3 linked regions of the Homo sapiens genome follow. The protein of the gene in region 2 interacts with the protein of the main gene of each other region in a biochemical or structural test. Each region holds a gene or a part of one and is shown on either strand. Other genes may lie near its edges.

Region 1 (4,488 bases), on a different chromosome or scaffold from region 2:
AATGACTCAGCTATTCACCAAAGTTGAATCAGAAGATACAAGTAGCCTCTTTGACAAACTTAAGAAGGAACCTGATGCTTTAACTTTGCTGGCCCCAGCCGCTGGAGACACAATCATATCTTTAGATTTTGGCAGCAACGGTGAGTAGTTATTTTTGTTAATCCCCTAAATTGTGTCTGTTGCTACAAGCCCCATTTCAACTAAACATTACTTTACGGTTTTTGTTGGTAATCATTTGGACATTACAAGCTAATATATGTTTATAGTTTTCTTAAATGTATTTGCTTAAATATTTTTGCCCCCGTAATTTCTTACCATTCTTGCTTTTTTATACTGTTGGAAATTGTGCTTCAAAGTGTCCTTAAGGTATTTCTTCTTCCCACATAAATTTTTCCTGGCTACTCTATTTCTGTATCCTGCTGTCAGATTTTCTCCACAGTTTAGCAGAGTTATATGGAAGTAGGCATTGTTGCATTAAAGGATAAAAAAGTAGTCATACTATAACATCAAGCATTGAAGATGAAAACTGCAATTTTAAAGTAGAGAACATTTTAATGTATAAAAAGGTTGGTATTGCCTTTTGTCTTTTATGCCATAGAGATTAAGACGCGGTATCAATAGTGGATTGTAAAGGTAACTCAGACTTATGGTTATACTATACTATTGTATGTAAACTTTCTGATGAAGGAAAATTTGGTGACATTTTGTTGTTTGATGAATTAGACAAACCTTTTGTGAAAAAGAACATAAATTTTTTATATGTGAAAATCCTTGTGGCCGGGCGCAGTGGCTCACGCCTGTAATCCCAGCACTTTGGGAGGCCGAGGCGGGTGGATCACTTGAGGTTAGGAGTTCGAGACCAGCCTGGCCACCATGGTGAAACCCCGTCTCTACCAAAAATACAAAAGTTAGCTGGGCGTGGTGGTGTGCGCCTGTAATCCCAGCTACTTGGGAGGCTGAGGCAGGGGAATTGCTTGAACCTGGGAGGCAGAGGTTGCAGTGAGCCAAGATTGCGCCATTGCACTCCAGCCTGGGCAACAGAGCAAGACTCTGTCTTGGGTAAAAAAAAAAAAAAATCCTTCTATACTTTAGATTGACTCATATTTTTTCCCCACAGACACAGAAACTGATGACCAGCAACTTGAGGAAGTACCATTATATAATGATGTAATGCTCCCCTCACCCAACGAAAAATTACAGAATATAAATTTGGCAATGTCTCCATTACCCACCGCTGAAACGCCAAAGCCACTTCGAAGTAGTGCTGACCCTGCACTCAATCAAGAAGTTGCATTAAAATTAGAACCAAATCCAGAGTCACTGGAACTTTCTTTTACCATGCCCCAGATTCAGGATCAGACACCTAGTCCTTCCGATGGAAGCACTAGACAAAGTTCACCTGAGGTAGGTGTCATGATATAATCAGAAAGGGACAACTTTCAGATTTTAACATTCAAGAATGTATTTATAAGTTTGATTCAAACACTTATTTGAACCACAAATTACATTTGTGTGTGTGTTTGAATTTTAGCACTTTAAAATTATTGCAAGAGCTACTGCCTAACCTAGACCTGAGCACATGTTTTAGGCTCAAAGATAGTCAGGAACATGGGAAGAAACTAGCTTAATATAAACCAAAAGGTGAAACGTACATTGTTTCTCTATTATTTATATCAGTAGGACAAAAACATCTTGAATTTGGACATTTAAAGAGAATAGTACTAAGTGTGCTCAAGGTAGCTACAGCCTATACCTGTTACCCCTTTTAGTTTGTTTTATTGTGTTTTGTTTTGTTTTGAGAAAGAGTCTCACTATCACCCAGGCTGGAGTGCAGTGGTGCAATCACAGCCTCAACCTCCCAGGCTCAAATGATTCTCCCACCTCAGCCTCCCAAGTAGCTGGGACTACAGGCCTGCATCACCATGCCTGGCTAATTTTTTAACCTTTTTTTGTGTGTGTGTGTGGAGTTGGGGTTCTCACTATGTTGCTCAGGCTGGTTTTAAACTCCTGGGCTCAAGCGATCCTCCTGCCTTGGCCTCCCAAAGTACTAGGATTACAGGCGTGAGCTACCATGCCTGGCCCATTACCCCTTTGAGTTGGAGAACTGTCTGGTAGCAATAGACTTACGAGGGTTTAAATGGGAAAGGACCTTATAAATTCTTTGCCCAATTTAGTCTAATTTCCATCACTATTTTGAAATTTTGGGTAAGTATAATATGAAAATAACAAGTGTTACATAAAATAAATACTTAGTAACTGGTCTTTTTTATTCTGGATCTGTCTTGATATTAATTGTCCTATGAACACAAAAATAATCTTTAAAGGCTAGGCTGGCCAAGACTTAGAGATATCACACAGGGCTCTATTTCTAAATCTAGAATGATTCCATTTTAGGGCTTCCTACATCTAAAAATATGCTCAGGAGTAGGGCAACTTAGATCTGAACATTATAACTTGATAAATGAGGCATAAATAAGCTTTAATAAGTGGTAAATAATTCTACATTAGGTATTTGTTGAATAAAACTGACAAGCTAAGAGTAGGGGATTTGACATCTCACAGCCTTGTGTTGAATGAATATATATCCTATGCTCTGGTTGCTTAATTTACCCAGAAAAAAAAATGTTTGATTCATCTTGGTTTTTATCTAACAAAAGTAAATCTAACAAAAACGTTAGAATGAGGAAAGCAAAATTTCTTGTTTAGAATACACAGCTATAGTTTTTTGTTAAACTTCTTGCCCAGAACTCTTAAAATAGTAATAATGTACATTCGTTCAGGTATATGCAGGTAAAATAACTTAGGTTTCTACTCCCACCCCCGACAGTAACAGTGAGATTTTTAGGTAGCTCAGTCACCACAGGAGTGTGCCTTCTCAGTTCAAAGGTAAATTCCAGTGAATGTAGCATCTAGTTAATTGGTCAATTAGGTACCATTGTGGGATGTGAATTACCAAATAGGTTTTATTCTTTAGAATAAGGTGTTTCTTTTCATCTCAATTTTGTAAATGATGTTATATTACATAGTCAGAAATATATATATTGGCAAAATTAGTTACCAGTATAAGCTTCAAAATGTCACTATTTTCACAAATTTTTTTTTTTTTTTTTTTTTTTGACATGGAGTCTCACTCTGTCGCCAGGCTGGAGTGCAGTGGCATGATCTTGGCTCACTGCAACCTCTGCCTCCCAGGTTCAAGTGATTCTCCTGCCTCAGCCTCCTGAGTAGCTGGGATTACAGGCGTTTGCCACCATGCCTAGCTAATTTTTGTATTTTTAGTAGAGACGAGGTTTCACCATGTTGGCCAGGATGGTCTCGATCTCTTGACCTCATTATCCCTCCACCTTGGCTTCCCAAAGTGCTGGGATTACAGGCGTGAGCCACTGAGCCCGGCCTAGTTAAATAAAATTTGATAAACACGATGGACTTGGTTGTGTGTTTTCTGGTTTTTCTGAGATCTAGTTTGAAAATTCTGACAACTAGCAAAGTATATGGAAGCTTCTTCAGGAAATAGTAAACATATTTCTTTTTACAGCCTAATAGTCCCAGTGAATATTGTTTTTATGTGGATAGTGATATGGTCAATGAATTCAAGTTGGAATTGGTAGAAAAACTTTTTGCTGAAGACACAGAAGCAAAGAACCCATTTTCTACTCAGGTATATGAACTTATTTGTTTTATATTAAATTTCATTAATTTTTAGTCTGAAGTGACTTTGAGTTTCACTTGTTTTTTATTTATAAGGTGTGGCCATTGTAAAAACTCATGTATTTGCTGTTTTAAAGGACACAGATTTAGACTTGGAGATGTTAGCTCCCTATATCCCAATGGATGATGACTTCCAGTTACGTTCCTTCGATCAGTTGTCACCATTAGAAAGCAGTTCCGCAAGCCCTGAAAGCGCAAGTCCTCAAAGCACAGTTACAGTATTCCAGCAGACTCAAATACAAGAACCTACTGCTAATGCCACCACTACCACTGCCACCACTGATGAATTAAAAACAGTGACAAAAGACCGTATGGAAGACATTAAAATATTGATTGCATCTCCATCTCCTACCCACATACATAAAGAAACTACTAGTGCCACATCATCACCATATAGAGATACTCAAAGTCGGACAGCCTCACCAAACAGAGCAGGAAAAGGAGTCATAGAACAGACAGAAAAATCTCATCCAAGAAGCCCTAACGTGTTATCTGTCGCTTTGAGTCAAAGGTATTTATATGTAACATTCAAGTTATAGTTCTTTTATTATTTTTGAGATAAATGTATGTGATAGTACATGATTTTTAAACTTATAGCAAACTTTCTGATATATATGCCCTAACGCAAATTCTTGAGAACTCAAAAAACTTTCTAAATTAACCTCATATATTTTTTCTTTTTCTTTCTTTTTTTTTTTTTTGAGACAGAGTCTCGCTTTGTCGCCCAGGCTGGAGTGCAATGGCATGGCACCATCTCAGCTCACGGCAACCTCTGCCTCC
Region 2 (5,291 bases):
AATTCCTTAGGTGAAGCAGAGACTTTGCTAGGGTTGAGATCTATAAGAAACTTCTCATGGAGGTCTTACAGATGCCCCTTGAGGTTGGGGTGCATAGAGTTTTCAAAAATATCCTGGCTGGGCACGGTGGCTCATGCCTAATCCTAGCACTTTGGGAGGCTAAGACAGGAGGATTGCTTGAGCCCAGGAGTTTGAGACCAGCCTGGGCAGCATAGAGAGACTCCTTCTGTAAAAAAAAAAAAAAAAAAAAAAAAAAAAAAAAAAATTCAATTAGCTGGGCATGATGCTGCACATCTGTAGTCCCAGCTACTCAGGAGGCTGAGACAGGAGGTATCACTTGAGCCAGGAGTTCGAGGCTGCAGTGAGCCATGACTGTGCACTCCAGTCTGGGTGACAGAATGAGGCCCTGTCTCTAAAAACAAAACTAAACAAAACAAATTTCTAGCGTAATTCCCAAAGTAGATAACTTTCAGTGGTAGTGGGAATACCGCAGATTCCTGTTTTGAGTGGGATTTTCAGTGGTGTGCAGGAGCTGGCTGGTATCGGCTCTCAGGAGCTAACGGTGCACATCTCTTCCCAACTCTGCCTTCAGTGATATCACATTGGTAGCTTAAAATCAACGATGGGAGAGTATTCACACCATTGACAGAGGCAAGTGGACATATCAGAGACTTGTTTGTTTGCTTTGAGACCCAGTTTACCAGCACATCACTGGGAGTTTTCCATCTCCAAATTAGCCACTTTACAATGTCGTTTTTAAATGTCTGTAGCAGATTAACATGATTCCCTGCCCTCTTGCTCTTCACAGACCACCCTCACTAATGCAGGAGGAACTGGAAACTGGAACACAGGAAGCTGCCTATCATGAAGGCCCATGATAGACAAGAGAAGTCCGGCGTGAGTGATGGAGAATATTAAACAACAAATCTAAGCCATACGCCTAAAGCTGCCAAAGACCTTGAAAGGCCCAGCTGAGAAAAACATGAACTTCAAGTCTGGCATGTACGGCTATTTTAGGAATGATGAAAAACAACTTCATCAGATGTGGCTCCTGCCCTCTTAATAGGGTGAGGACAGGCAGCCTCTTCATCTTCTCATTGTTTTTTCCTAATTCTACTCCTTCATGTTCCCAGTTCCTCTCAAACTGGGAAAGATAGTAAGCCCATATAACTGCACTTCTAATCTCAGAAGTTTTTTTTTCTAATTACAATTGTTGTTTTATAAAAGCTGGGAATACTCTTTCATTTAACAATCTTTTTCAACAGTCATTTGTTGTTGAGGCCCTCCAATGTGCCAGGCATTGCACTAGACACTGGGACACAGAGACAAATAAGATTCATTTTCTGCTCTCAAAAAGCAGAGATAACGCCAGGTGTGGTGGCTCACACCTGTAATCCCAGCACTTTGGGAGGCCAAGGTGGGCGGGTCACTTGAGGTCAGGAGTTCAAGGCCAGCCTGGCCAACATGGTGAAACCTCATCTCCACTAAAAATACAAAAATTAGCCAGGTGTGGTGGCGGGAACCTGTAATCCCAGCTACTCAGGAGGCTGAGGCAGGAGAATCGCTTGAACCCAGGAGGCGGAGGTTGCAGTGAGCCAAGATCACACCACTGTACACCAGACTGGGCAACAAGAGCAAAACACTGTCTCAAAAAAAAAAAAAAAAAAAAAAAAAAAAGAAGCAGAGACAGACCAATAGGGACTCCAATGCGTGCATCAGGGATGGAAGTTTCAAGCAGTCTAGGTCAACAGGAGGGTCAGTGTGAAGGTCAGGAATTTGGTGGATAGGGATGTAGTACAAGAGGTGACCAACAGAAGCCAGGGTTTGAAGAGCCTTAAACATGGCAATAAAAAGTTAGAAATGGAGATGAGTTTGTGGGAGTCCACTGGGGAGAAGGCGGCGTGAGCCACAACACTCATCTGCACAGTGGCTCAGGGAGGATTCGAGAGATGGCAGCAGTGAGGTGGAAGCTATGAAAAGACCACAGCAGGGATCTAGAGGGACTCCCAGAAACCCAGCTCAGCTGAACAAGTGGAGTCAATTATGAAGCTGGGAAGAAGACCGGCTACATTAAAACCCTCAATGGTGGAAGTACAGACCCACCCTTTTCTCCGGTTCCACTATGATGGCGTGTTTATCTTCTTCTGACACGAGAACACACGTGGCAAAGGATGACTTTAACATGTTCATAACCAGGTCGTTGGAGAGGACGTCCAGCTTCTTAACTTGATCACCTGTCACGTTGGTAGAACCAGCAATGCCATAGCTACAGGGAACAAAAGCCACAAAAAATAAGCCATGACCACCAGAACATGTAGATGAGTCCATAAACCCACCAAAAGTGAGTGTTCGGTAAGATTTAGAAGAAAGAGTTCATGTCCTTTGCAGGGACATGGATGAAGCTGGAATCCATCATTCTCAGCAAACTAATACAGGAACAGAAAACCAAACACCACATGTTCTCACTCATAAATGGGAGTTGAACAATGAGAACACATAGACACAGGGAGGGGAACATCACACACTGGGGCCTCTCAGGGAGCTGGGGACTAGGGGAGGGAGAGCATTAGGAGAAATACCTAATGTAGATGACAGATTGATGGGTGCAGCAAACCACCATGGCATGTTTATACCTATGTAACAAACCTACGCATTCTGCATGTGTATCCCAGAACTTAAAGTATAATAATAATTTTTTTAAAAAAGGGCCGGGCGTGGTGGCTCACGCCTGTAATCCCAGCACTTTGGGAGGCTGAGGCGGGTGGATCATGAGGTCAGGGGATCGAGACCATCCTGGCTAACATGGTGAAACCCCGTCTCTATTAAAAAATACAAAAAAGTAGCCGGGTGTGGTGGTGGGTGCCTGTAGTCCCAGCTACTTGGGAGGCTGAGGCAGGAGAATGGCGTGAACCCAGGAGGCGGAGCTTGCAGTGAGCCGAGATCGTGCCACTGCATGCCAGCCTGGGCGACAGAGCGAGACTCCGTCTCAAAAAAAAAAAAAAAAAAAAAAAATACAAAAAATTAGCCGGGTGTGGTGGCGGGCGCCTGTAGTCCCAGCTATTCAGGATGCTGAGGCAGGAGAATGGCGTGAACCCGGGAGGTGGAGCTTGCAGTGAGCCGAGATCGCACCACTGCACTCCAGCCTGGGCGACAGAGCAAGATTCCGTCTAAAAATATATATATTTTTAGAAGAAAGGAAGGAGGACATCAGCTTGGGAGAACAAGGCAGGAAGGTCTGGACAGACCCTAGAGAGGAGGAGATACTATCATCTGCCTCTTCACCTCGAACCTGTCATGGTGCCCTGCACACTTTTGTGGTTAAATCAGTGTTTCTTAACTTTGTTTTCATTATGATTCCCCTAGGGAGCTTTTTAGAACATTTTTTCCTCAACCATACTCCCCCATGAAATATTTTTAATACTACAGATATAGTAGATATCTGTTTATTGCAGTATGTGTCTCAGTGCTTTTTACATAAAAAGTTTGCGGGTGTTTTTGGTTTTGCCCAGAAAGAACCAGTGTTGGCCCCCAAACACACGGGTTAAACGAATCAATAGAGAGACCCAGCAAGCAAGGAAGCCTGGGTCGGGGGTAGCCTGAGTTGCGAGCCAAGCCAAGGGGTTTATGGCTTTATAACTAAAAAGACCCTAAAAGAAACAAAGCATCAACCGGCCCCTCTGCCTCATTTCATAGAGGAGAAAACTCAGACCCAAGACTCCTGTGGACTTCTCCACACAGGCAGAGGGTAGAAGTGAGACGCTGCCTATGACTCCCAGGCAGAGGGTGGAGGCGAGACCCTGCCTATGACTCCCAGGCCAGGGCTCTCTTGGTGACACCCTGGGCCCCTGGCAGGAGTCCTAGGGCATGGAAGTTGCAGGGATCCTGGAGTTTTCACTATTTTTAAGCAACCTGCAAGTCAGTAATTATAGAATTCCCAGAATCCAGTGGCTTGTCTAAACGCAGCCTAGCTTCTTAGACTTACAGAAGCGGCAGGTTGTCATAGCCTGGGGTTGCCCTGAACACAGAAAGGAGGGAGACGTCTCACAGGAAGGATGCACAGAGCAAGGCGAGAGCCTTGATGTGGGAAGGGGAAAAGATGGGTCTTTGAAGACACCAGCAAGCCTCTGAAAGTGGGTGGTAAGGGCACACCCGCGCCCTTGGCCATGATGGCGATGTGCGCTCGCCTGGGAACTGACGGTCCCTGATCCAGTGGCCGTGACTGCTTCAGCTCCTGCAAGTGCATTTGCCCAAAACATAACTCGCTGTGACTGGCTGGGCAAAACTGAGCCCCTCCTAGAAACCATCCAAACCCACATGCCTGGTCCGGCCTGACTATCTCAGGAGCTAGCTCCGGCTGTCTTCTCGGGCCCGCCTGTCAGCGTCTTTCAGCCACTCTTGGCATCATTCCCTTTCCAGCCTGCAAAGCACATCTCATCCCACCAGCCCTCCTCCTGCTGCTTCTCTTTTCACCCATCACTCCTATTTCATGAGTAAAAGACCAAGATGTCTATCGAGCTTTGAGCTCCACCCCATGTCCCTGGGCTTTCGATCCTATTTCCACATGATCTTTTTCTGACCCCAATTGTGAGGCTGGGGCTTGTGCAGGAAGAAGGCAGCCAAAATCTGGGAGGCCAGAGGGACTTGGCAGGGCCCACCAGCTCAAATGCAGCTCCCTCAGTGACCCCACTAGCAGCAGTGCTCTCTCCTTTCCAGCCTGAGAGTTGCACTGTCAAAGTCACTTTATGATTATTTTTATTTTTATTTTTATTTTTATTTTTGGAGACAGTGTCACTCTGTTGTCCAGGCTGGTGTGCAGTTGCGTGATCTCGGCTCACTGCAACCTCCGCCTCCCAGGTTCAAGCGATTCTCGTGCCTCACCCTCCTGAGTAGCTGGGACTATAGCCGTATGCCACCACATCCAGCTAATTTTTGTATTTTTAGTACAGACAGGGTTTCACCATGTTGGCCAGGCTGGTCTCGAACTCCTGACCTCAAGTGATCCACCCACCTCAGCCTCCCAAAGTGCTGGGATTACAGGCATGAGCCACCGTGCCCAGCCCACTGTCAAACTCACTTCTGATTCCGGAGGGCAAATAGCACCGATGGACCAGAAGAAGGGCTTCAAGGCAGAGACCAGGTCCAGGCCTCAGCTCCCAGGCTCCCCTGCTCTTTCTGAGCCTCCCTCCCTTTCACATGTGTCCAAAGAGGGAAGTGAAGTCTGCCCCCACGCGGCTGTCAGAGGATTGCATGAGATGACATACACAAAAGGCCTAGCACTAATAGGTGCAGCC
Region 3 (4,488 bases), about 42 Mb from region 2:
ACCGGCAAGCTGAGCCCTAGGTCTGCAGGCACCGAGCGGCAGCCTCTAAACCCTGCTTCTCACTGCCACAGGCTACGCCGGCAGCCAAGGTTGAGGGAGGGGCGGGGCTGCGAGGGGCTGCAGCAGTGGAACCTGGACCTTGAGCAAGGCCCACAACCCTGATGGAGCCTGTTTTGCTGGGGGTGGGGAGGTGCTGCCTCACTCAGCAGATCCCCCAGGCCTCCTGCCAGACCCGCCTCTGCCTGACTTCCCTGGAGAACACAGATGGGCCCGACGCCCTCCCCCTCGCACCTCGCTGACTGCGAAGGTCCCAGGTGGAGGCACCAGTTGTCCCGGACTCAGCTGTGCTCGGGGTCAGGCTCCCAGGGCCACGTAAGCCTGGCCACTGCCCCAGACCACCAGGCGGCCCTGAGGAGGGCAGGTGGGCACACAGGCAGCCACTGCCTACCTGGAAGACACCTTGTGCGTCGGCAGACACAGCCGCATGCAGCGGGGTGCGGCCCATGTTGTCCTGGATGTTGGCATCTGCGCTGGCCTCCAGCAGGCGCTTGGCGGCATCAGAGCGTGAGTAGCGGGCGGCCAGGTGCAAGGCGGTCTCGCCCGTGCGGTCTGTCTGGTTGTGCAGGCTGGCGCCCTGGTAGATGAAGTCGGAGATGACGGCCGGCGCGTCCTCCTCTTCCTCGCTGTTGCCCGTCTCCAGGCCGCCCCCGCTGCAGGAGGCGATCATGAGCGGGGTGAAGCCATCTGCAGAGGCAGAGACGGGTGCTCAGTCTGGAGGGCCGGTCCCCAGCTGCAGCCCAGGGGGAGGGGGGCAGCAGCCCCAAGCTCAAGGGGCCACGGTGTGGATGCACCACCCAGCACTTGGTGGCCCCGTGCACACAGCCACCAAGGGGCAGCTGAAGTCCGCCTGGGCTGCTCAGTGGACAGAGCCGAATCCAGCTTAAACTCCTGGCGGGCAACTGCTTCCTGACCTGCCCAAGACCTGGCACCCAAAATCCACCCAGGAAAAAGAGGACCCCAGAAGCATGCAGTTAGAAAATTAATGCTTCAGCAGGATGCGGAGGCTCACGCTGTCATCCTAGCACTGGGGGAGGCCGAGGTGGGCGGATCACCTGAGGTCAGGAGTTCGAGACCAGCCTGGCCAACATGGTGAAACCCCATCGCTGCTAAAAATACAAAAATTAGCCAGGTGTGGTGGCAGGCGCCTGTAGTCCCAGCTACTGGGGAGGCTGAGGCAGGAGAATTGCTTGAACCCGAGAGGTGGAGGTTGCAGGGAGCCGAGATCGTGCCACTGCACTCCAGCCTGGGTGACGGAGCGAGACTCCATCTCAAAAACAAAAAAAAAAGAAAAAAAAAAAGAAAAAGAAAATCAACGCTTTCCATGTCTCAAGAAGGTTTCAGAAAAGAGTAATTTACAGGGACAGAGTGGCCCTGCGGTATCACCCCAGGAAGGGGTTGGTGGAAGAACAGGAGGACTCCAGGACCCCCCCACGTCTACTCTGAATGGGAAACACCCCAAGGATGAAAGCTCTCACCCCCAATTCTAAGTTTCCAGAGTATCAACTGTACCCCAGCCTCGGGGCTTAGGGGAGAGAGGCAGGTGGGCCACGGGGCTAGGGAAGCCCTGGCTGCTGGCACCCTTACCAGGCCCGCGGACATTGACGTCCATGCAGTCGGCGTCAACCTCACCCTGGGGCGGTGTGGGGGCCATGGCAGACATGCGCAGGTCAGCGGCATCCAGGTGCTGCTGAGTCCACTGCCGGTGGTCTGTCTGGTCGTCCAGGTCAGGCAGAACCACGGGCTCCTCGAACTACATAGAGGGAGTGAGCAGAGCCTGTCAGGGCAGCCCGGCAGCAGGTGCCCGGGAGCCCAGGAGCCCGGGAGCCTCGCGACTCACCCGGAACTTCTTGGTCTCCAGGTCCTCGTCCCCCCACTCATTCTGGTTGTCGTCCATGAGGGCACCGTCTGAAGCGTTCTTCAGGGGCCTGGGGGGTGAGGGGTCGAGAAGTGAGGCTGAGCGAGCTCCCTAGGAAGCCCCCAGAGACCCCTGGCCCGGGCCTGGCGTGGGAGGTGGGCCCTGGGTCGGGAGGGGCAGACTCCCGGTGAGGATGCTCGGCCAGGTCCCACCTCCCACCGGGGACCCAGAAGCAGGGGCGGCGTCCGCTCACTTGAGGCCCACGGAGTCCTCGCCGAGGGGCTCCCGCCGCTTCTTCTTGCTGGCCTCAGACACTTTGAAGCCCTCAGGGAACCAGAGCTGGCCATGCTGCCGCCGGCGCTTGCGGGACAGCAGCACCCCGCAGCCCACGAAGAACAGAAGCACAAAGGCGGCCGCCGCCACGTACATGAAGTGCAGCTGCGCCGGCGGGGGCGGCTCCACGGTCTCACCTGCGGGCACGGGGGCCAGGGGCAGGTGCCCGGACATCAGGCAGCGGCTACGCAGCAGGCTGGTGGCCGGGGGGCGGCGGACTGGCTCCGCGTCCGGGCGCCTCCTCACCCACTCTCCTCCATCCCGCCCTCCAAAATAAGGTCATTTTCTACGCGATTAATCAGAATTGCAAACTATCGCTAAATTCTCTCCTGCACCAGCCGACTCTATCTGGAGACGGCTTTTACTTTTTTCTCCTTTAAGGAAGGAGGATTAGTCAACTTCAAATCGCTGCACTCGCACTGAGCTGTTAAGACAAAGGATTTAGAGGGATTTTCAAGATACAAACTTCAACACTTCACATGACACCGATCAATTCTTCTCTCTCTCTCTTTTTTTTTCTTTAAAAAAAGCCGTAATGATTTTGAAATAATACCCAACAAAGAAAATTCAGGAGGAAAGGGTGGGGAGAGAAGCAGGCACCCACTTTCCCGTGGCTGGACTCGTTCCCAGGTGGCTCCACCGGCAGCTGTGACCGCCGCAGGTGGGGGCGGAGTGCCATTCAGAAAATTCCAGAAAAGCCCTACCCCAACTCGGACGGCAACGCTCACACCCGTGGGTAGCAACTGGCACAAACAGCCAGCGTGTCTGGGGCACGGGGGGATGGCACCCCCTGCAGGCAGAGCCTGTTCCCGGGATGGGGCCACACTTACTCTGCACGGCCTCGATCTTGTAGGGGATGTTGAGGCTGCCCAGCGAGGCGAGCGCTCCCAGGAATGCGGCCACGTCGGTGGCACTCTGGAAGCACTGCGAGGAGGCCTGCACACACTGCCGGTTGTCAATCTCCAGGTAGACGATGGAGCTGGGCGGACAATCAGAGAGGGGCTGGGACCCGAGGCTTCCTCCTCCCCCGCCCACCGGCCAGGGATGCTGCCGCAGGACACTGAGGCCCATGACGCCACAGTCAGGACATGGTGAGGCAGCCTGGGGTGGTGGGAAGCCAGGTCTGACAGCAGCTACCCTGCAGGGGACTGGTGCCAGCCCCCCGACTCCGGCCAGTGCTGATCACGGCTCATCCCAGATACCCACCAACGCGCTCTCCCTGGCCCGCCCTGACACCCTCTCTGGCTCCTGCTGGTGCCACAGACACGTTTCCTCATCTCAGGACAGAGTATGTGCCAGGAGCCCAGTCCTCCCCCAGGAGCCATCCCCAGGCCCTGCAGGAAGCACAGGCGTGAGGTGGGGGTGGGTGCAGCGGTGGTGGGCTGTGTGGTGAGGCTGGCTGGGGGTGAGCTCTGCTCCCCAGGACTGGGTTCCCGTGAGCAGGATCCCATCCAGCCTGTGAGATGATGCTTCTGACCTCCAGGATTGCTCCAAGCCAGCAGAACTGACAGGCAAACCCACCAGGGTCAGGCACACGAAGGGCACAACCAACCTGGCTCCTGGGTCCAGCTGCCCCAGATCGAGTAGGCATGGGCGGGAGCCTTGTGGGGTGCCCCCTGCACTCAAGCTGCTCCTGCCTGTGTTCTCCCACCGTGGGACCCCCCACCCCCACCAGCTCCTCCTCCAACTGCAAGGCCCAGCAATGCCCCCTCCCAGGACCTCCACCTGCCTCCTCTCCAGCCCAAGCCAGGCAGACGCCATGACCAAGCGGCATTCTTGTCTGGGGTGGGGCTGTTCAGCCCTGTGGGAACCCCTGGAGAGCTGAGTGTTTTGTTTTTTACTTCTTTTAATACTTTTTTAAAAAAAACAGAGACAAGGTCTCCCTATGTTGCCCAGACTGGTCTCGAACTCCTGGGCTCAAGGGCTCCGCCTGCCTCAGCCTCCCAAAGTGCTGGGATTACAGGTGTGAGCCTCCTCGCCTGGCAGAGGGCTGAGTTTTAATCAGTGTAGTATCCAGTGCCTAAGGCACAGCTCAATCTCAAAATCACCTACTGGGCACAGGAGTGCCGCCTGTCCAGGGGAAGGCAGTGGCCCAGGAAAAGGGTGTGGCTGTGGGGTCAGGGCCCTGAGCTGGAATGCTGCCTCTACTCCTTGCCTGCGCAGGCCCTGAAGTCCCAGGTCCTCTCGGAACCTCCGTCTCTTTTACCATAAAGTGGGGAGAGTACTGCTTGCCATGGCGC

What was found. Proteins that work in one complex are often made in the same cells at the same time.
Region 1: the proteins of FBP1 (region 2) and HIF1A form a complex in vitro, tested with the Homo sapiens proteins (one study listed by IntAct).
Region 3: the proteins of FBP1 (region 2) and NOTCH1 form a complex in vitro, tested with the Homo sapiens proteins (one study listed by BioGRID).

The regions. Positions count from the first base shown.
Region 1 is NC_000014.9:61,736,970-61,741,457, forward strand, and holds part of HIF1A (hypoxia-inducible factor 1-alpha), read left to right. Parts: coding exon 1-140; intron 141-1,117; coding exon 1,118-1,404; intron 1,405-3,535; coding exon 3,536-3,658; intron 3,659-3,785; coding exon 3,786-4,219; intron 4,220-4,488.
Region 2 is NC_000009.12:94,618,226-94,623,516, forward strand, and holds part of FBP1 (fructose-1,6-bisphosphatase 1), read right to left. Parts: intron 2,267-5,291; coding exon 2,104-2,266; intron 1-2,103. UniProt on the Homo sapiens protein: Catalyzes the hydrolysis of fructose 1,6-bisphosphate to fructose 6-phosphate in the presence of divalent cations, acting as a rate-limiting enzyme in gluconeogenesis. Plays a role in regulating glucose sensing and insulin secretion of pancreatic beta-cells.
Region 3 is NC_000009.12:136,500,104-136,504,591, forward strand, and holds part of NOTCH1 (neurogenic locus notch homolog protein 1 preproprotein), read right to left. Parts: intron 3,228-4,488; coding exon 3,079-3,227; intron 2,386-3,078; coding exon 2,169-2,385; intron 1,986-2,168; coding exon 1,898-1,985; intron 1,811-1,897; coding exon 1,645-1,810; intron 745-1,644; coding exon 449-744; intron 1-448. UniProt on the Homo sapiens protein: Functions as a receptor for membrane-bound ligands Jagged-1 (JAG1), Jagged-2 (JAG2) and Delta-1 (DLL1) to regulate cell-fate determination.